Linked DNA regions of Homo sapiens: region 1 is linked to region 2. The links come from fine-mapping of genetic effects on gene expression. A gene starts in region 2. The other region holds a variant in brackets. All regions are shown on one strand. Distances are between the middles of the regions.

Region 1 (3,016 bases), 46 kb after region 2:
CAGAAATGGTGTGCCAGTGCACTTGTGGCATATATGTTAATAAAAACTAGTAACTATCTTTTATGGCATGTTTATACTATTGTGCCAGACCCTATTATAAGTAGTTGACATAAATTAATTCATTTAATCCTTACAGCTAACCCAAGAGTAGGTACTATTTTTACCCCCATTTATAGATAAACAAACCAAAAAACAAAGAGTTGAAATGATTTTTCCAAGGTCCCAGTGGAGCATCACACAGAGGCAGACAGACCCCACCAAGGCAGATGGCGACTGCTGTCCAGGAACTGTTACCGCATCTCCTACACCCAACCAATGACCAGCCTGATTATGGAGCTTTTCAAAAATCTGATTCTTAGGCCCCGCCCCCAGGATTCTGGTTCAGTCAGTCTGAATTCTGCATCACTTTTGTAGATTACCCTGGTGATTCTGAGCATTAGCTGGGTTGCCAACATCAGGTTGGTTTCCCATTGGTGATTTGGCAATGTCTTTTTGCTGGTGGATCATTATTAAGTTCCTTCAGACCACACAATACTCCACATCATAGGTAATGGGGCAGGTTACTACTTTTAGAATTTCCAATACAATGAGTAAAAGTCAGAATTAGTATTTTACTTACATATGATACTTCTTGTACCTGAGCTCATCTTCCATTAAAATATATTTTAGCCAGGTGCTGTGGCTCACCCCCATAATTCCAGCACTTTGGGAGGCCAAGGCAGGAAAGTCACTTGAGGCCAGAAGTTCAAGACCAGCCTGGACAACATAGCAAGACTCCATCTCTACAAAAAATTTAAAAATTAGACAGGCATGGTAGTTCGTGCCTGTAGTCCCAGCCACTCAGGAGGCTGAGGTGAGAGGATCACTTGAGCCCAGGAGTCCAAAGCTGCAGCAAGCTATGACAGCACCACTGCACTCCAGCCTGGACAACAGAGCAAGACCCTGTCTCTTTAAAAAACAAAAACAAGCAAAACAAAACATTTTAATTGTTATGCATAGTATATATGTGCATTTTTGTTAAATTAAGACTTATAATCTCATAATGATCATGATTTCCCCCAAATGCTGATGATGACCAAATTTCTATTTCTGTCCCAGACCTTGAACCCCCAGCCTAAAAATCAGATTGCATATTGGATGTTTCTTCCTGGAAGAATGTCAAACTGAACAAGTCTGAAACTGATCTTTGTGCATCACAACCCAGCCAAACCTGTTACTTCTCCTACATTCCCTTTCTTGGTGATTGGCTTGTCCACCCACTCAGCCACACCAGCCAAAATGCTGGGAGTCATTTGGATTCCAC[C/T]GCCTCCCCCACTTCCCATGACCCAACAGTCCACCTGCTTCCCACGGCCTCCCTTTCCTGCTGCCACTGCACCAGTTCACGCCACTTCTTGGAGGACATCTCGGGGTCTATCGCCCAGCTCCCTGTCTTGGGCTGCACTGCTTCCAGAGTGCTTGCTTTCTTTTCTTTCTTCCTCTTTGTTCTTTTGCTTTTGGGTCCAAGCTTCACTTTTTAAAAATGACATAATCTGTTTCAAATATACAATTGAGTTCAGAGAATAATAAACAATTGTGTTCTACTAGTTTTATCAACATCTCAACATTATCATGTCATGTTTGCCAGTTTATTTAAAGAAATATATATAAATTTATGTATTTAATGTATATTTCAACTGCCAGAGGTCACTGGTTTGAATCCAGCTCCACTACTTACTTACTACATATGTATTAATACATATTATATAAAAATATAGGTATTGAAACCCACCTTGACTAGCTCGTCCCCTAGTCCCTGAGTCCCCCTTTCCCAGGGCATTCTCATGAATTTGCTATTATCAATCTCACGTATGTTAATATTTTCTGTAGACATTTATATGTTCATAAACAATTCAAAGTGCACTTTGTAGGTTTTTAAACTTTACTAAAATAACGTCATACTGTATATATTCTCTGCAGCCTGCTTCCTTCACTCAATTTTGTTTTTTCTTCTTTTTGCCACATGTTGCCCTAATTCATTCATGTTAACTACCATATGGTATTCTATTATGGCTCTATACTACAATCTATTTATTTATTCTCTGTGGAAGAACATTTAGGGTTTTTTGCTAATACAAACAGTGGAGCATTGCTGTTTTTGAACAGATGTTTGAGAGTTTCTCCAGGCTAAATTCTCAGGAACGGGATTACTTTCCTGGTCTCCCGAGACAGAGACAAATAGTTTCCTGCCTCCTTTTCTCTAATCCTCACTGCCGCCAGAACAATTGTGCTGAAATGCCCATCTGATCCTGTCACTCTCCTGCTTAAGTGCCTTTCATGAAACAAACCTGCCATTCCTCAATAGGACACAAGGGGCCTGTGCTCTGGGCCCTGCTGCTTCTGCAGCCTTCTCTCCCCTCTCCACCCCACCCGTCACCCAGTGCTCTACCAATTGCTCCCTGCATCCCTAACAGACCCCAGGGATCCTGTCTCCCAAACCCTTGCGCCATCTTCTCTCTTTCCAGGACTGCCCTACCCTCACTCATCTCCTCCAGCCTTCATACCAGGAAATACCTAATTTACAGGGTGGGGTCTTGCTCTGTTGTCCAGGCTGGAGTGCAATGGCGCAATAACAGCTCACTGCAGCCTTGACCTCCCAGACTCAGGTGATCCTCCCACCTCAGCCTCCTAAGTAGCTGGGACCACAAGTGTGGGCCATGACACCTGGCTAATTTTTAAAATTATTTGTAGAGACAGCGTCTCCTATGTTGCCCAGACTGGTCTCCAACTCCTGGACTCAAGCACTAATTGTTTTTTGAGAGTCATGTTCTCATGGACTTTTCCTCAACTGCTAGAGATCACTGGTTTGAATCCAACTCTACTACTTACTAACTCAGGCACATCTTTAAACCTCTCTGAGCTCAGTTTCTTCATCAATAAAATGAAGAAAATAATAGCACTCACCACATATGCCTGTCATATGGGTTGAATTTGATTATCAATACTTTGATTATTGAATTTGATTGTTGATATAGAGCAC
Region 2 (2,500 bases):
ACCCCTCGGGGACAGGAAGGGATAACTTCGCCGGTGTCGAGAGTGGTCCATGGATTTTTCCAAAGTCCCCCCTCATGCTGCTTTCCGTGCCCAACCGCCTCCCGCCCTGACCTGGGGACTCGCAAAGGGCAGCGGGAGGGGCGCCGGGGAAGGGGGCGAGCGCCCAGACCGCCGGAGGCAGCGGCGAGGACTGGAACTCCAGCATGGCGTAAGTGTGGCCCAGCTCCGGCCCGGGGACGCCGCCGGAGACGCGCTGCCTCCGTCCACCGGCCGAGGAGGCGGTAATCCGCCTTCCCTCCCGGGGGCCCTCAGGCTTGGCTAAAAATAGGTGCCTCGGTCACCCCAGGGCCCGCTCGGGTCGACCTCGCCTTCGGGAGAGTCGTCCTTGGGGAGGGTGGGGGGTGTCCCTCGGCCGCGCCCCGGGTGCCGCGACAGAGCCGGGGTCGGGCCCAGAGCGGCCCCGCGAGGCCGAGGAGGTCCCTCCGAGCCCGCCCCCTGCGGCGTCCCGGCCCCAACAAGAGCCCCGCGGCGGCAACCGGATGCCCGAGGCCTACCCAGCGGGCGGCGTCCGGGCCCCGCGGCCGCGCCCCCCCGCCCGGCGCGGCCCTCCCGCCTGCCCCAGGACCCCGCGGCCGGCGCCGCCTCCCCCCGCGCTCCCCGCCGCCGGCGCCCGTCCCGGTGCGGCCTGCTCTCCCTCACCCTGTGCGGCCGGGAAAGGAGACCGGGAAGACGCGGCGGCGCCGGCACTACAGCCCGGGCCGCCCGCTCCGAGGCGCCGCCGCCGCCGCCGCCGCCGCCGCAGTCGCTCAGGTGCCGTCGCGCCGCTCGGCAGGAAACGGGCGGCTTCGGGGCGGGGCGGGGCGGACCCGGCACGTCCTGGCGTCTGGGCCGGCGGCGCCGGGAGACCGGCCCCTTAAAGGGACAGCCGCCGGCCCGCCTCTGCCTCCGCGCGCCTGCCCACGCGCTCCGGTACTCGCTGCTCGCGGCTGGCCGGCTCGGGATTCCGGGCTTTCTTCCCGAGACCGCGTCCCCCAGCTGGGCCGAAGGTGGACGCTCAGGGGCTGGAGGCTCAGCGGAATCCCCTGCGTTCAGTAGCCCCGCTCTCCCCTGTCCCGAAGGTTGGTCTCGTCTCGCGCGGCCCTCCCTCCAGGGCACCACCTGGCTCCCCACGCCTTTTAACTTCAGCAAACGGCACTAGATTTACCCCCTGACTATCCCAGATTTCCCCCAGAAATTACTGGAAAACGACATCCCCCGTCCCTTTCTCCAGGGGATCTCTCTGAAATCTCCTTCGGGCAACGCTAGCTACAAACGGAGAAAGAAATTAGAAAGCGACCCAAATAATGGTCGGGCGCGGTGGTTCACGCCTGTAACCCCAGTACTTTGGGAGGCCAAGGCAGGCGGATCACCTGAGGTCAGGAGTTCGAGACCAGCCTGGCCAACATATAGTAAAACCCGTCTCTGCCAAAAAAAGTACAAAAAATTAGCTGGGCATAGTGGCGCACGCCTGTAGCCCCAGCTACTTGGGAAGCTGAGACAGGAGAATCGCAGGAATCTAGGAGGCGGAGGTTGCAGTGAGCCGAGATCTCGCCACTGCACTCCAGCCTGGGCGAGAGAGTAAGACTCTCCGTTTCTCTCAAAAAAAAAAAAAAAAAAAGGAAAGAAAAGAAAGCGACCCAAATGAGTTGTGTGCAAACATTATGAAAGTGTTGTGACTGCCAGCTGGTAGCCATTTATGAAGCCGGGGTAAAAATCTAGAAACTGCTGCGCGAGGAGGGATGGGCCCGGATCTCTCCTTATTCGTTTGCTCTTTGCTGAAAGGATGGCAGCGATCCTCCCCGTCCACTGGCAAGTGAGTTTCGTGTGGATTGTTTACCGATGATCAATCTCTCACAGGAGGCCAGGCACTGCCCCACTACATGTACAAAACACTCCAAGCTGTCCGCAAATGTTATGAAGGCTTAAAATAATCCTAACGATTCCAGACTGTGGATAGAGATAGAAAAAATTAGGACTCACCACCACCACCTCGCCCTACATCTGACAAAGTGGGAACAGAAGCAGTTAAGGAATGAACAGCAGAACCGTTTCTACACCAACAGAATTTCCTGTACATGGGCTGGTTAAAAGTATCCATACTTTTTATTCTAATCATTTCTAAGTTTTCTAGAGCACCTCCAAAATACAAATGAAAACTGCGCAGTGTATAGTGGCCTGAGATATTGAGAATTCTGCCAGTCTTCAGTCACCGTGTTCTCCACAGATGCATTGTCTTATTTTAACTCCAGAGGCGTCCTCTTTTTTCTTTCTCATTAGGATTACTCTGCCCCTCAGCGGTTCCAGTGCCCTCAAAGCAATCTGTCTCTGAAGTACTGGCTATCTTCTGAGCGTGTGCCAGAAGATCCAGCTTTGTTGAAAAGCGAAGCCGTTAGTCCCTTAATACAAAGGGTAAGTGTATCATTTATGTAATGGAGTTTAAGGGCTCTTGATTAGCTTACAA

Alleles and levels. Positions count from the first base shown, and alleles are read on the strand shown. Sizes are in standard deviations (SD) of each study's normalised expression.
As copies of C replace T in region 1, the expression in skeletal muscle of the gene that starts at base 962 in region 2 goes down (moderate effect, 0.56 SD a copy in FUSION).

The links.
Region 1: its variant is fine-mapped to the expression of KTN1-AS1 in skeletal muscle (FUSION, PIP 0.95).

Annotation. Positions count from the first base shown.
Region 1 is chr14:55,532,408-55,535,423 of GRCh38, reverse strand. No RefSeq gene overlaps it. Among named protein-coding and RNA genes, the nearest start is that of KTN1-AS1, 46 kb to the left of the region's middle. The variant C/T (reference allele first, on the strand shown) is at 1,304.
Region 2 is chr14:55,578,554-55,581,053 of GRCh38, reverse strand. It overlaps KTN1-AS1 (KTN1 antisense RNA 1), which reads left to right and starts at 962. Exons shown (of 3, transcript NR_027123.1): 1 at 962-1,118; 2 at 2,317-2,448. It overlaps KTN1 (kinectin 1), which reads right to left and starts at 847. Exons shown (of 44, transcript NM_001079521.2): 1 at 700-847. RefSeq lists silencers at 3-642, 703-962 and enhancers at 1,403-1,492, 1,503-1,622.